Linked DNA regions of Homo sapiens: region 1 is linked to region 2. Evidence: fine-mapped expression QTL. A gene starts in region 2. The other region holds a variant in brackets. All regions are shown on one strand. Distances are from middle to middle.

Region 1 (4,000 bases), 28 kb before region 2:
CAAACAGCAGCCAGGAAAAGGCTACCCTGAGTCCTGTTCCCTCCTGTGTGTCCCTGTCTCTTTTGGATCTATGATCATTCAGGGTGGGAGTTGTGTATGGGACGGAGAGGCTTTCTGTGAAGGCTCAGTGGTCCTGCTATGAAAACTTTAGGCCCCTTAGGAACAAATGAGAAGCAACCAGTTCCCAACCAGATTGAGGCCAGCTGCTCTCTGACTTTTTTTTTTTTTTTTTTTTTGAGACAGAGTCTCGCTCTGTCACCCAGGCTGGAGTGCAGTGGTGTGACCTCGGCTCACTGCAACCTCTGCCTCCCGGGTTCACGCCATTCTCCTGCCTCAGCCTCCTGAGTAGCTGAGATTACAGGTGCCCGCCACCACGCCCGGCTAATTTTTTGTATCTTTAGTAGAGAAGGGGTTTCACCATGTTAGCCAGGATGGTCTCAATCTCCTGACCTCGTGATCTGCCCGCCTTGGCCTCCCAAAGTGCTGGGATTACAGGCGTGAGCCACCTCACCCGGCTGCTTTCTGACTTTTAACTATGATCTATGATTTATATCATGACCTAGCTACACATAAAATTGTCCTTGTTCTTCCTATGTGTGATGCATTGTATGTTTTCTATTCCATTCCATTTTCTTATTACAGGCTACCTCTCTCTAAATTGATTTCACAAACTACTAAATGAGTTGGAACTGAAGTTTAAAAACTGCTGTTGAATGATTAAAAGGGATCTGTCTTAGATCTTTCTCTAAATTTTCTGGTTCCAATAACATATCTATTTAAGTGCCCCAACACATCAAGAGGTTTAACAACTTTGTACCAATTGATCCAGTAATTCACCTTTGTTGAATCTACCTTACAAAAGATTGTTGTTAAGAGACAGATCAAGGGATCCTTATGCATATTCTGTTTTTAGCCAGACATTTGACACATTTATGGAAAAGATGAAAACTGGATTTGATTTTAGATTGTGAAGGAAATTAACATTGACTTCAGCTTTATTCAAAGATTAGATGTAGTTAAAGCAGTTGAACAGCTATGCCCAAAGAGTTTTTTTTCTAGTTCTATGTTTTTTTGAGATGGAGTTGCTCTGTCACCCAGGCTGGAGTGCAATGGGGCAATCCTGGCTCACTGCAACCTCTACCTCCTGGGCTCAGGCAATTCTCCCGCCTCAGCCTCCCAAGAAGCTGGGATCACAGGCACTCACCACCAGGCCTGGCTAATTTTTGTATTTTAGTAGATGCAGGGTTTCACCATGTTGGCCAGGTTGGTCTCGAACTCCTGACCTCAAGTGATTCACCCTTCTTGGCCTCCCAAAGTGCTGGGATTACAGGCGTGAGCCATGGTGCCCAGCCCCAAAGAGTATTTCTTAATGGCTCAGTGTTAACATGGAAGAAAGAGCTGATGATACACAACTGGCCACCAACTTAGGCTCTAATGCTTAGAAACATCTTATTACTGATTACTTAGATGAAGACTGGAAGACAGTTTAGCCAGTCTAGAGATGGAAAAGTAAAATATTTGGGTCAAAAAATCAGAATCTATCAACCTGGGCAACATAGGGAGATGCTGTCTCTACAAAATACAAAAAAAATACTGTAGGGCATGGTAGCCCATAACTGTGGTCCAACATACTTGTGAAGCTGAGATGGGAGGATCACTTGAGCCCAGAATGAAGGCTGAGGCTGCAGTGAGCCAGGAGCATGCCATTGCACTCCAGCCGGGCTGCAGAGTGAGACCCTGTCTCCAAAAAAAAAAAAGGATCAAGATAGGTAGGAAAGATGCAAAAACATTAAGAACCTCTGTGGAAGTTCAAAATACAAATGGCACAAAAACTGGCTGGGAGCAAATATGAGTTTTTCCTTTAGGATGCTGCTTAGCAGCCTCTCTTCCCAGTAAAAAATGTCTTCAGACATTGCCAAATGTCCTCCAGGGCACGGAATTTCCCGTTGAG[A/T]ACCACTGAGATAAACTGATGTACTACTAGAGGAAAGACCTGATGAACTTTTGTCGACAGTAAATGCAATCTAAACATTGCCAGCAAAGGTCGCAAAAGAAATGCAATTCAAGAACGCATGATTCCTACCAGTAAGAGTAACTAATATTGACTCCTTACTCTGTACCTGGCACAACGCCAAGGTCCTTCCATGGGCATCCTCACTTAACGCCCACATGAACCCTATAAGGTAGGAATACAATTGTCTCCATTTTTCAGATGAGGACACTGATGTCTAGGGATATTAAGTGACTTGCTCGAGGTCTCACAGCCCAGATGATAGACCTGAGGCTGTGTCAGTCCAGAACCTGCCCACTGCCTACTGTGCTATGAGAGTTTTACAACCATGTACCAGGTGTGCACACACAGGAAGCAGGCAGTGCCCTCCTCATAGACCTGGAAATGGCTGAGAAGTCAGAAGTAAGTTACAAGTGACCCAGAGAGTGTCCAGAATTCCAAAGCAGGGACTTGCCCTATGGCTGAAGTCCCAGCTTCCAGTCAGCTCACTGACTTAATTCATACAAAATCCTAGTATGTTTATTCTTATATCAGTAGGATAAAAGGGTGACTTTTAGAAAGATTGTCAACAAATAGTTAAGAGCATGCAGCGGCACTTCAGGGGTTAAGTTTCGGTTATCTGGAATTGTTTCCCTTTTGGGGACCCCAATCCTTGATCATTGTGGCTCCAGGTCCAGACATGGAATTCACCAGTATCAACACTTCCCCATGCCGATCCCCCCGCACACCCCACTCCCCCCGCACAGCCCCCCGCACACCCCACCCCACCCCCGCACACCCCACCCTCCCCAGCACACCCCACCCCCCCGCACACCCCACCCTCCCCAGCACACCCCACGCCCCCGCACACACACACCCGCACGCCCCCCCCGCACACCCCACCTCCCCCCCCGCACGCCCCACCTACCCCCCGCACGCCCCACCACCCGCCGCACCTCCCAGAAATGACTGAGAAGCCACAAGGGATGCCTGAGCCCAGGGGACTGCAGGTGGGCGTGACCTGTCCCCTCCTCTCCCCTAGTGGCAACCTTGCGGCTTGAGTCTGTCGACCTGCAGAGCTCCAGGAACAACAAGGAGCACCACACGCAGGAGATGGGCGTCAAGCGGCTCACTGTGCGCCGCGGCCAGCCCTTCTACCTCCGGCTGAGCTTCAGCCGACCCTTCCAGTCCCAGAACGACCACATCACCTTTGTGGCTGAGACCGGTGAGTTTGCCCTGTCCCAAGGCCCCGCAGGTTCCGTCAAAATGAGGGCATTTACAGAGTCTGCCTGCGGGGCCCCTGCCTTTCCCACCTGAGCTGCCCTCCACTTTCTTGTCCTGGGAGCCCCAGACCCCTCATGCTCAGGACCCTGTTAGTGCTGTTAAGGAGAGATTTGGTCAACTCGGCAAACTGAGGTTGTGGCAGTTAACAACCGACCTGTAGATACACAACAAGCACTGTGCTAAAACTTTACACACATTAGCTCATTTAATCCCCAGGACAAGACTTTCAGGTGGTACTATTATGATCCCCTTTTAACAGATTAAAAAACGGAGGCCTGGGGGTCTTAAATGGTTTGCCTGAGGACACTCGGTGGCAGTAAAAGCCAAAAGCATTAGCAGGTGGTGGGAGAAGGTGACGGTCCTTCCGACTCCCCTGGAATCATATACCATACAGGTTTTTTGAGCCTCACTGTGGGGTCATTCTCTCCTACACAGGACCCAAGCCGTCAGAGCTGCTGGGGACCCGAGCCACATTCTTCCTCACCCGGGTCCAGCCCGGGAATGTCTGGAGCGCTTCTGATTTCACCATTGACTCCAACTCTCTCCAAGTTTCCCTTTTCACACCAGCCAATGCAGTTATTGGCCATTACACTCTGAAAATAGAGATCTCTCAGGGCCAAGGTCACAGTGTGACTTACCCGCTGGGAACTTTCATCCTACTTTTTAACCCTTGGAGTCCAGGTAGGATGTGCCCACAGCTTGTATTGCTAACCTGATCCATTGGGAAGG
Region 2 (4,450 bases):
CTGGAGAAGTACAAGGTGGCACGCAGGTGTCCCCTGAAGTGATGGATGGACAGTGTCCTCACTCATCAAGACCAGACGTGCAAGAGGAAGGGCAGGTATTTTGAGAGGAAGGAGCAAGGGGAAGAGTTCCATTTGGACTCCTTGGCTGTGAAGTGTCCAAGGTTTCCCCCAGAGGAGCTGTCCAGCAGAGGGTGCCGCAGTACACAGTTCTGGGGGTCCCCAGTGTCACGCGGGAGCCAGTGGAGTGAGAAGAGAGGAGATGGGGACAAATCCCTGGGAGGCACCAGTTCAAGAAGGGAAAGTCTGTGATGGGGACTGAGAGGAAGAGGACAGTGGGGATAAGGAGGCAGCTAGACAACCAAGAGAGAGAAGTCACCTAAGCCCAGGAGGAGTGGACAGTACCCGCAGGGCTGCAGGAGGCCTTGCAGGGTAAGAGCAGGAAAGGCGCCCAGAGCCCAGCCCTCAGAGCTGGGAGGTGAGCGTGGCGTCGAGGCAGCCGTGGGACAGAAGGCAGTCTGCAGCAGGTGAGGGGTGGTGGGAGGCAAAGCAGTGGGCAAGGAGCTTGGCTGAGAAGTGGAGTTGAGAGAAAGGGCAGGGGCTGCTAGGGAAGCTGGGGATGAGAGTTGAAGGTGGATGTGCTGTGTTAAAATAGTGAACTGCATTTGTGCACATATACCCTATAAGAGGTGAGTGGGGTGTGGGCCATGGGCTGCCATGGTCAGTGAAGTATACCAAGATGGCTGGGTGAAAACTTGCTCTAAAAACCATTGACTGGGTAGCTTTTGCAGAGATGATACCCCAAAACCAAAAGGCCATTGCTAATTATCTGAAATCCTGGAATGAGACCCTCACCTCCAGGCTGGCTACTTTACCTGAGAATCCACCAGCTATTGACTGGACTTACTACAAGGCCAATGTGGCCAAGGCAGGCTTGGTGGATGACTTTGAGAAGAAGTTTAATGTCCTGAAGCTTCCTGTACCAGAGGATAAATATACTGCCCAGGTGGATGCTGAAGAAAAAGAAGATGGGAAAACTTGTGCTGAGTGGGTGTCTCTCTCAAAGGCCAGGTTGGAGAATATGAGAAACAGCTGGAGAAGATGAGGAACTTAATACCATTTGATCAGATGACCATTGACGACTTGAACGAAGCTTTCCCGGAAACCAAATTAGACAAGAAAAAGTATCGCTATTGGTCTCACCAACCAATCAAGAATTTATAAAATTAAGTCCAGGAAGAAGCCCTGGCCCTTATAGTACACATTCTGGACATTAAAAATAAAAATAATTACATAGGTTTTAAAAAAGAGCTGAGTGGGGACAGAGAGAATTGAAAATACAGGAGGGAGGACAATGCTGGTGAAAGAGGTTCCCCAGGGAGAAGGACCCAGAAAGCAGGGGATGTGGGGAGAAGTGCCCCAGAGCACAGAAAGACAGGGTAGGCATGGGGGTCCCACCCACTCCACAGGCAGAGCCCTTCCCCCTCCTGCCCTCTCTCTCCTTCCACCTGCGCTTTTCTCCCTATGAAAGGGCTTGTGCCTTTCTTACTAGGATCAAGGCCCTTGCTCACCGGCATTCCCACCCTCTCACCTATTTCCACACCTCCTCCACAAATCTTCCCAATTTTTCTTCCTCTATTTTATTTGTGATTATTTGCTTTTATTTGTGATTTGTCTTGGACCTGCCAGGTCTCATGCAAGACAATGCCACTGCCAAAGCTAAATACAGTGAAATCATACCGAAGGAGATCCAGACAGAGAGGGTTCTGTTTGCATTTAATGTTCAGGAAGTGACTTTTCAGGATAAAAGAGAGGCCTTGGTTACCTAGCAGGGTTCTCGGCTCAATGAGGTGCTTTAAGCTGTGAGCAGAGTCTTGGGACCCTGATGCTCCTTCCAGCAGCCCCCTGCATCCCTCTGGCGGGCCCATCAGCTCGCTTCTCCCTCCTGACTTCTCCACCACAGCACAGCACCTCCCTGGGAATGCCCTATTGCTCAAGAGCTATCAAAGGCCCACACGGCATAAGGCTGTGACAGTTCATCAGCCTCCACACCTCCTTTCAATTCAGCAACACTGCCAAGAAAAACCTGAGGGCAAGTGAGCAAACCAGTTGTGATCTGCTCGGTAATCAGGTGGCAGTGCAGCAGTCCAGCCCCGCCTTCGGTTCTCCTGGAGGCTTCCAATGGAAGGGGAAGTAGACACTCTGGCACCAGTTTGCTGAAGCTCCAGACCGCCCAGCTGTTCTGTGGGGAGCATCCCAGGAACCGGAGGCAGCTACCATGGCCCAAGGTAGGGAAAGCCCCTGTGGCCACTGGAGTTCAGGGATAAGAAGGACAGAGAGAGACTGTAGGAAGTCAAGGGGTGGAGGGTGGATTCAGAGAAATAAAGAAGTAAATACAGAACTGAGGCAGGAAAAGCAAGAATCCCAGAAACCTCAGTATTCATTGGTGGCTTGAGAACCAGGAGACAGCGTAGAGGCAGACAGGTAAACACAGCACACAGCTGCTTGCTAACATGCCTGCCTCCATAGCCAGGTGGGACAGGGCAGGGCCAGAGATGAGGGGGTCAGGGTTTCTGTCCTTCTCTGCTACTAGCTGACCCTTTGACATTGGACAAGTCACTTCGCCTCTAGTTTCCAACCCCCTTGCCTGAAAAAGGAGGGATTGGACCAGACAATCTTGAAATTGTCTTCCAGCTCTTAAGTTCTCTGAATCTTCATATCTTCTCTTCTTCCTCCATTTCAGAAGGTCTATTACTGATCTTAGCTAATCTTCCCATCACCAACCTTCTCTCTATATCATCCCCCTCACTCTGGAAAGAGTTGCTGTGAAGATTAAATCGTTAGTTGAAATCATTTAGAGGAATAAGCTTTCAACTTCCTCTACAACTGTAACAACCTTACCTTTATTTATTACTTTTTGTGTTTAAATTTTTGTTTTAAAATTTTCATAACTTTTAATTGCACAAGAAATATGGGAATACATAGTTGGAGTAAAATAAATAAATAATTATAGATAAAGCTATAGTCCTCTGCCCGCCATCCCCAATGGCAGCCTCATCTCCAGAGTAAACACTGTTACCTGTCTTTTGTCTGCACATTTACACTCAGACATACATTTACTCAATGTAATACATAGGATTAGCATGTGTGGTCTTTTTTGGTATATCCATGGTATCATCATATTGTATGTATATTTCTACAACTTGATTTTTTTCACTCCACAGTATGTCTGGGAGCTCTGTCCATGCCAGTCAGTACCTATAGATCTACCTCAATATTTCTCATAGTATCAGTGCAAGTAATTTCTAATCCTGTCCCCTATTGATGGGCATTTAGGTTGTTTTCAATTTTCCGGTTACACAAGCAATATTGCAAGGAACATACTTATCCATGCCTCTGTGTGCTCACGTGGGAGTGTCTCTCTAGGATAACTACTAAGATCACTTACTTTAAAAGTTCTTTCTACAGTCTTCTGTTTATTTCCTGATCATCTCACCCCATTCTCCTCTCACCTCAAGGAAAACAAATATGCCCAGTAGTCAATGAACCTCCTATTTGAATAGATGGCACCTGGGCTGAAGAGTCATTCCTGTCTTAGGCAGAGATTAACATGGCCCAGGATGTCTCTAGAGGATGGAATTTTGTCCCAGCGCTTGCTGCCAGGCAGATGCTGCCATGCCTGCTGAGTAGCCTGCGTCATGTGCCCAACCTGAACTGTAGCCAGTTAGTGCTGTCTAATAAATTGGTCTCCAAAGGGGGCAAGCTTCTTTTTCCACTGTTAGGTAAAAGCCAAGTGCTTTCTTAGCTGGCAGTGGGTGTGGACATTTTTTTGATCATGAGTGAAAGCCAACAGTGGGCAACAGCTCTTGGGGGTGATGGGAAGAGCACTGGACTGGGCTCAGGAATCCTGGTTTAACCTTAGACGAGATATTTAACCCACCTGAACCTTGATTTTCTCATCTCCAAGTGTGGATGACATGACATTTTGTCCCTGCAAGGATGCGATGAAGATTAAATGAGATAACTGTCCTAGCGTACCTGGCACAGTGCCTGGCACATAGTAGATAGGCCCTCAATAAGATGTTGATTAAATCTGAAATCTGAAATACGTACAGGGTGATTTTGCAAAAGATAGAGAATTCTATTCAACCTAGCAAATCTGAGTACCTACAATATGCTGATCATTATGCTTAATTTCTTTTATAATAATAAAAAACTAGTTTATGAAACAGATGTGTGTTAAAGTAATCAAAAGCACTCAAAGAGATTTAACATAAAGTGTAATACTTATTAGGGTATTTTGGCACAGTCAATTTGGTTCATATTTGTTTATAACAACTTTTATTGAGATATAATTCATATACCATCAAGTTCAGCTTTATAAAGTCCACAATTCAGTGGTTTTTCATATACTCACAAAATTTTGCGAGTATCGCCACTATCTAGTTTCAGA

Which allele goes with the higher level. Alleles are on the strand shown, and positions count from the first base shown. SD is a standard deviation of normalised expression in the study named.
For the expression in monocytes of the gene that starts at base 2,197 in region 2, A is the high allele of the variant in region 1 and T is the other (moderate effect, 0.73 SD a copy in Quach 2016).

Evidence for each region. PIP is the estimated chance that this variant, and not a neighbour inherited with it, causes the effect.
Region 1: its variant is the best candidate, but not a certain one, in a credible set for the expression of TGM5 in monocytes (Quach 2016, PIP 0.51).

What each region holds. Positions count from the first base shown.
Region 1 is chr15:43,292,661-43,296,660 of GRCh38, reverse strand. It overlaps TGM7 (transglutaminase 7), which reads left to right. Exons shown (of 13, transcript NM_052955.3): 2 at 3,030-3,212; 3 at 3,707-3,952. Among named protein-coding and RNA genes, the nearest start is that of TGM7, 7.6 kb to the left of the region's middle. The variant A/T (reference allele first, on the strand shown) is at 1,952.
Region 2 is chr15:43,264,675-43,269,124 of GRCh38, reverse strand. TGM5 (transglutaminase 5) reads left to right here and starts at 2,197. Exons shown (of 13, transcript NM_201631.4): 1 at 2,197-2,285. The coding sequence starts at 2,276. It also overlaps the pseudogene ATP5PDP1.